Homo sapiens: one gene and its partner. The gene in region 1 interacts genetically with each later gene. Each region holds a gene or a part of one and is shown on either strand. Other genes may lie near its edges.

What was found.
Region 2: changes in PLA2G4C (region 1) and COXFA4 together harm fitness less than expected from each alone (positive genetic interaction), as found in Homo sapiens cells (one large-scale study listed by BioGRID).

What each region holds. Positions count from the first base shown.
Region 1 is NC_000019.10:48,093,815-48,097,633, reverse strand, and holds part of PLA2G4C (cytosolic phospholipase A2 gamma isoform 1 precursor), read left to right. Parts: intron 1-711; exon of another isoform or gene 712-904; coding exon of another isoform or gene 905-935; intron 936-2,029; coding exon 2,030-2,170; intron 2,171-3,819. UniProt on the Homo sapiens protein: Calcium-independent phospholipase, lysophospholipase and O-acyltransferase involved in phospholipid remodeling with implications in endoplasmic reticulum membrane homeostasis and lipid droplet biogenesis.
Region 2 is NC_000007.14:10,937,759-10,941,677, reverse strand, and holds the start of COXFA4 (cytochrome c oxidase subunit NDUFA4), read left to right. Parts: upstream 1-1,524; 5' UTR 1,525-1,620; coding exon 1,621-1,662; intron 1,663-2,781; coding exon 2,782-2,870; intron 2,871-3,530; coding exon 3,531-3,588; intron 3,589-3,919. UniProt on the Homo sapiens protein: Component of the cytochrome c oxidase, the last enzyme in the mitochondrial electron transport chain which drives oxidative phosphorylation.

The DNA of each region.
Region 1 (3,819 bases):
AGTGACAAAGTGAGACCCTGTCCCCCCAAAAAGAAGAAAGAAAAAAGAAAACAGAGGAGAGGAGGGACAAAAGACAAAAAGGGGCCGGGCGCAGTGGCTCACGCCTGTAATCCCAGGACTTTGGGAGGCCGAGGCGGGTGGATCACGAGGTCAGGAGATCAAGACCATCCTGACTAACACAGTGAAACCCCGTCTCTACTAAAAATACAAAAAATTAGCTGGGCGTGGCGGCGGGCGCCTGTAGTCCCAGCTGCTCGGGAGGCTGAGGCAGGAGAATGGCGTGAACCCGGGAGGCGGAGGTTGCAGTGAGCTGAGATCGCGCCACAGCACTCCAGCCTGGGCGACAGAGCAAGACTCCGTCTCAAAAAAAAAAAAAAAAAAAGAAAAAAGAAAAAAGTAAAGAAAACTGTAATAAGGGATGTTTGAAGGATGGCGGGGTGGGTGGGTGGGGCTGTCTCTCACTTTTTTTTTTTTTTTTGAGACGGAGTTTCTCTCTTGTTGCCCAGGTTAGAGTGCAATGGCACGATCTCGGCTCACCACAACCTCCGCCTCCCAGGTTCAAGCGATTCTCCTGCCCCAGCCTCCCGAGTAGCTGGGATTACAGGCATGCGCCATCACGCCCAGCGAATTTTGTATTTTTAGTAGAGACGTGGTTTCTCCCTGTTGGTCAGGCTGGTCTCGAACTCCTGACCTCAGGTGATCCACCCGCCTCGGCCTCCCAAAGTGCTGGGATTACAGGCATGAGCCACCGCACCCGGCCATCTCTCACTTTTTAGATGTCTTCCTTCTCCATAGGTCCGATTATCACCCAAATGCTGGCAGCTCTCCAGACATTCCAGTTTCTCTTTTGAGCTCATCTCTCTCCTGAGATCCAGACCTCCTTACCCTATTTCCTAAGCATAAAATGCACTCACTTGTTCAGCAACTGTGTCCTGGTAAGTTCTCACGATACATCAGGCAATGTTACCAGTTACCTGTGGTTGGGCGTCTCCTGGCATCTCAAGGCTCAGAAGCCCCCAGTGTGAATGGTGTTTGTCTGTTTGTTTGTTTGAGACAGAGTTTTGCTCTTGTTGCCCAGGCTGGAGTGTAATGGCACGATCTCGGCTCACTGCAACCTCTGCCTCCCAGGTTCAAGTGATTCTCCTGCCTCAGCCTCCCAAGTAGCTGGGATTATAGGCATGCACCACCACGCCTGGCTAATTTTTGTATTTTTAGTAGGGATGGGGTGTCACCATGTTAATCAGGCTGGTCTCGAACTCCTGACCTTAGGTGATCCACTCACCTCCGCCTCCCAAAGTGCTGGGATTACAGACGTGAGCCACCACGCCCGGCCATGAATGTTTTATCTCTCTCCTCGGTGTGGATCCTTGTGCTGTTTTCTCACCAGAGCAGATACAGCTGACTCCGTCCTTTCCATAAGCCCCACAAATTCAGTCATTCCCAGACCTAGAAATCACCCCCTCCTCATTTTCATCCTTTGTGCTCTTCTACATCATCCCCAGACCAGGTCTCCCAGTCTCCTGGGAGACTCTTGTAATTAGTTCCTCACTGGCCCGCCCATCCCAAGCTGTCCACCTCCTTCCCTGGCTACCTGATGGAAGTTTCCAGGATGAAAATCTGATCATGTCATTTTCTTCCCTGGAATATTCTAATGACTCACATTGGAATCATGCATTAGATTTATGCCCACAGACAATCCTCCATGCAATCGTGTGGCTACACTCTTCCCTTGCACTCCAGGATTCCATGGAGTTGCAGCCACAATGAGATGGAAGAGAGAGGCAGGGCTGAGGGTTCAAGCTCTGGAAAATATTGGAAACAGGCTGCTGTGGAAGTTATGAGCTGCCACCAGCAGCGTAGACTCAGGTCTGAGGATGAGATCCCCAGTGGTTTCTGATACCACACAGTCCATCTCTAACATTCTCCTGTCATGGTTGTAATTCCTCATTAATAGATTTCTTTTTCCTGCATACCTGCTACATTCCTGGTTCTGTGCTGGGACTCACTTGCCGTTGTATTTCCTCTGCAGAGACCTGGTTCGAGTTCACCCCTCACCACGCTGGCTTCTCTGCACTGGGGGCCTTTGTTTCCATAACCCACTTCGGAAGCAAATTCAAGAAGGGAAGACTGGTCAGAACTCACCCTGAGAGAGACCTGACTTTCCTGAGAGGTCAGCGCTGGGGTCAGAGGGGATTAAAAGGGGGTGGGAAGTGGAGGAGAGGCAAGAATTTTCCTTCTGAGGGTCTAGTTTGCCCAGCTCTTAAATTTCTTGGGGGAAAGAAAAGGACTTGGTAGGCTTCCAGAAAGAGGAATGGTGTATTCCTTCTGCTGAGTCTTCAGTGTCTCTCAAAGGTCTCCTTAATGCGGCAGATACCTGATATCCTATCAAACAATCCAGGAGAGGGAGCTTAATAGAGGGGCTCAAGTCCAGGGCTGTGGCTTCCAATAAGCAGATTCAGAATGTGTTTGGGATTACATGGTGCTTTGGGAGGCTGACCTGGGAGGATCCCTTGAGACTGGGAGTTTGAGACCAACCTCGGCAACATAGCAACACTGTGTCTCTACACAAGATTTAAAAATTAGCCAGGCATTGTGGCATGTGCCTGTGGTCCCAGCTACTCAGGAGGCTGAGGCAGTGGAAGGATCACTTCAGCATGGGAGTTCAAGGCTGCAGTGAGTTATGATCGCCCCACTGCACTCCAGCCTGGATGACAGAGAAAGATCTTGTCTCAAAACAAACAAACAAACAAACAAACAAACAAAAAACTAGAATGTGTTTTGGGCACCAGCAAAGCAAGGGGCATACAATTTTTTTTAAATGGGGTATTTCCAGAAAAAATTACAACAAAAACCAAAAACAAAACAGTCATAGTGAGTAAAATCAGAACTTGATTAAATGTCCTTGACTGTAGCTTACACACTGGTATCACTTTTAGTTGTGGCTTCATAATCTTCTCAGCATTCAGGGTCTGAAGGCATTACCCTGCTGGGCAGACAGCTCCCCTACATAGGACCAACCATGCCAGCTTGAGAAAGTCATTAATGTTACCTGAGCCTCGTTTTTCTCATAGGGAAAGTACTTACCTCAAAATGTGGGTGTGAGAGTTAGGTATGATCCACAAATAAAACACTCAGCCCAGTGTCCAGCACATGGTAGGAAATTAAGGATGGTTGACTCTCCATGATTTTAGCATACACTTTTGAGACACACTAGGAGCCTGATACTATTTTAAATGCAGGGGATTCAGTCATGAGCAGGACAGTGAAGGCTCATTCCCTAATGAAGTTTGCACTCCAGGGAAGGAGATGATGAATGAACACACACAAAAATAAGTATGTATTATAATGTCAGATCATAGTAAATGCTATCTTGAAAAATAATTCATGGTAAGGGACTGGAGAGTGACTACAGTATTATTTTTAATTGGTGGTCAGAGCTTCTGACAGGAGATGGCCTTTGAGCATGGACCTGATGAAAAGTGAAGCCATGCAGATATCTTAGAGGAAAAGCATCATGGACAGAGGGAAGAGCAAATGCAGAGACCCTGTATTAGTCCGTTTTCATACTACTATAAAGATACTACCCGAGACTGGGTAATTTGTAGACAAAGGAGGTTTAATTGACTCACAGTTTCACATGGCTGGGGAGGCCTCAGGAAACTTACAATCATGGCAGAAGGTGAAAGGGAAGAAAGAACCTTCTTCAAGTGGTAGCAGGAGAGAGAAGAGCAAGCCAAAGAAGAGCTGCCCAACACTTATCAAACCATCAGATCTCGTGAGAACTCACTCGCTATCACGAGTACAGCATGGGGGGATCTG
Region 2 (3,919 bases), on another chromosome or scaffold:
CACTTATACATCATTCTCTACGGCTTATTTCAATAACTGGCATCAACAACCACAGAGCTGCTCAAAACTGAACCTCTGAAATTATTCTTAACTTCTCTCTCCTCACTCCTGGAGAGCCAACCACCAAGTCCTGTTGGTGCCACCTTCTAAACATCTCTGGAATCTTTTTTTCTCATCATTACATTCTCTACACTAGTTCAAGCTACCATTATCTGTCACACAGATTATGGACTATTGCAATGGCCCCTTGATAGGTCTTTCCCCTCTCACGCTTATCCCTTCTAATCAATTATTCACAAAGCAATCATTTAAAAACACAACCTTCCCAAGCTCTCAACATAAAACCCATGATGTTTAAGCGGTTATTGGCCCAGCAGATCTGATCCCCACCTTGCTCTCCCTTTTACTTTCCAGCCACACTAGACCTCATACAGCTCCCTCGGGTTTTCAATAGCTTCAGACCTTCACGTGTTATTACCTCCGCCCTGTACACCTGCATCCTCCGTTTTCACCTGGTTAATGTCCGCTCCTCCTTCAGAGCTAGTGTAACTTCCGGTGGAGCCTTCTCCTATGATTTCTAGTCCCAATTATTAATACTTGCTTGATCATTTGATTAATGCTTTAAGCTACGTATGAGATTGGAGAGGGTTCAGAGTGTACATTTTATCCCAATCCCCCCACCCTCCCCCGCAAAGCCTGTCCTATGGAAGTCCTTCGGGTAAAAAAAACAACGAAGAAAACAAAACAAAAGACAAATGAAAATTCGACTGGGGTAGTGGGAAAGATTATCTGTAGCTACACGACCATTGAAAACACATTTTAAAGATGCAATTTGGGACCAGGGACGGGGGATAGTGGCGTGTTGGAAAGGTCTTTGTGGCGACGAACTTTCAACCGAGGGCCAGGATCTGAGGGTTCAGAAATACACTGCCAGGACTATTATCACCTTTAAGTCATTTACTAGTTTTTAACTTCTGCTTGTCTGCGACAGCGTAACACAGGAAGCAGCTGCAGTCTTCTCAAACCGCAGCCGCTGACCTTAGCGGCAAGAGGCCCGACCTGCCCTCCAGGCGCCCGGCGCTCGGCTCCCAGAGGCGCCGCGCAGCTCCCTCAGCGGCAGTCACAGCTGGCCAGCGCGCACCCGGCACGCGCGCCCCCAGGGCCTCTGCGCGCGGACCCGGCTCTCAGGCGCCGCGGGAGAGGCCCCCTACTCACGGAGCGCGCGGCCCGTGCGCCCACGCTCCGACCGCATTCCTCAGTACGTGGCACCCTTGGAAAGTGCCTGTCTGGTCAATCGAAGAGTCCTCGTTTCGACCAAAAAAATTCCCCTCAGAAATATGCATGGCACGGCAATGAAGGCATTTCACTATGAAGTGGAATGATGATGGTCCGACCAGGTCAGGACGAACATATGAGGGGTTAGATCTAAGCAGGCACTATTAAAGACAGTCGCATCCGGGCCCTCCTGCCGCAAGCTGCCCTCCCAGCCAAGGGTCCTTCAGGTAGGAGGTCCTGGGTGACTTTGGAAGTCCGTAGTGTCTCATTGCAGATAATTTTTAGCTTAGGGCCTGGTGGCTAGGTCGGTTCTCTCCTTTCCAGTCGGAGACCTCTGCCGCAAACATGCTCCGCCAGATCATCGGTCAGGCCAAGAAGCATCCGAGCGTAAGTTCGTGACCGCTCTCCTAATGTTTTCCCTTGTCCTTCTTGCGTCGGGGTGCGCCTCTTTCTGTTCCCTGGGAACGTCCTCATTTACAGCCACTTACCGTCCGTCAGACCAGACCCTGCCTCGCCTAGTGTTTGTCATCTTAGTTGTCCCAGGCCTCTGTGACCCTCTACGCCATGCATTGTGGGGTTTTGTCTGACAGGAGGAAGGAGACGGACACTGCTCGGAAAAAAAACCTAGTTTTTTCTAGTTAGTGAATATTGGAACAGTCTGGTGGCCGCTCTCTTTTGCAGGTTGTGCGGTCCAGGAGGGATAGATGTGCGCTGTGTGGGTCAGAGACTAGCATAGGTCAGGTTCCCTATGTGTTATACCATCTCTGGAGGTTCTTGTATTCGCCGCATTGCACCACCAGGCCTTTTGGTAAATAAGAGGGGTCCGTGATCTTGGAATCCTCACTTTGTCTGGACGTCGTTGCTTTTGGGAAAATTTCGAAGTGTGGAAATTGCAGTTAAGTTCTTTGGCATCTCATTTTTCCTCAGCACATCAATGTGCTGTAGAGCTAAAAGTCTATGCAATCTTTAATCTGTCTTAAATCCGGTTCCCTAAATACGCAGCAAGCATTGGTAGCATTACGTTTTCAGAGATAATGCTTAAAGCCAGTATTTGTAATAGATACGTTTACTTATTCAGATTCTATTTTTCATACATCTTTATAGAGGCACCCTTAAATAATTTGCAAAGAATTTGTTTTTCAAGCCCCAGGATAAAGGAAGCCAGAAAATTTAATGGGAATGACATGTAAATATTAGAGAGGTGAAGAAGACTCGATACATTTTCTTGGAAATTTAAAAATGTACCTATAATTTGCTCCACATTAAAAAGTAAGACACTTAAACCAGAGTCATCTTAACATCCTTTCCAAATTCCATTTCTTTCTTTAGAACACAGTTATAAGAAATCTTACCTCAATGTAAGATCTACTTTATTTAAATTTTAAGACAAAACAGTCCAATAACAGTTTGAGACTTGGAAATCAATGTGCAGAAACTACTGTAATCTCTCGTTGGCCAGTGTTTTAAGTATTTGAAGATGGTTATTCTATTTTGTGTTTGGTTTAGTTGATCCCCCTCTTTGTATTTATTGGAACTGGAGCTACTGGAGCAACACTGTATCTCTTGCGTCTGGCATTGTTCAATCCAGATGTTTGGTAAGTACTTAAAAATGTTTAAAACTTTGATAGCTGATCAAGGCAGTTTAGGAGCCACAGTCTCTGTAGGGCGATAACATTAGGGTAGTAGAAAGAATGTTACATTTACAGTCATACAATAAGTTCAGATCTCAAATCTGCTGTTTTCATTTACTTTTTTTGGTTCATGAAATTATCTAATTTCTCTGAGTCTCGTTTTCTCTTTGGTAAAGTAGAACTGCTAATACCAAATCTTGTAATGTTTTGAGGATTGACATAAAAATAATTGTTTTTATAAAATAATCATGGTTCTCGGCACATGTAAATGTTTTTTGCCTTCACTTGCACATTTGCAGTTGAAAAACAATAGACAATCAAAAGATTGATTCATCATTATTCTATGCACTTTTCTGTATATCACTTTATTAATTAAATGGAAAGGTTTTGTGAAAGCCAGATAAAAAGTATCTTGTGATAGGGATTCTGTGTTCTACCTTTTTTCTAATTGATTACATGAGATTGCTTATTATAGATCCTCTACCTGTTTCAACTTCATAATGAAATAACACCATACCTCATCTAATAGAAAATAAGATTGATCTGTTCAAAAATGTATTCTTAGTACAAAACACTAAATAGTGCTTTATTATTATAACAGTCGTAATGTTTTATTTCTTTTAGTTGGGACAGAAATAACCCAGAGCCCTGGAACAAACTGGGTCCCAATGATCAATACAAGGTAAACTACAAAATTGTTTTAAAGTTGTTAGAAATTGTGTTGTAATAAGTTTTGTCATGGGGTGGGTTTTCTTGAAACTGGATATACGAGTAAAATTCCATTATATTGAACTTTAAAGAGCTGTTAGGTAGTTCTGTGAAATGAAAATGGTATATTGCTCTAATAAATATTTTTTGCTAGGTATTTAATTGCTAGTATAAGAAAAGAAGGAAAAATAGTATAGCTATCATTTACCATTTTCTTAGTTCTTAGGTAGTCTAACACAGTGTTCTCAAACTTCATTATACATAGAGCTTGTTGAAACACAGATTCTTCAGCCTTATCCCCAGAG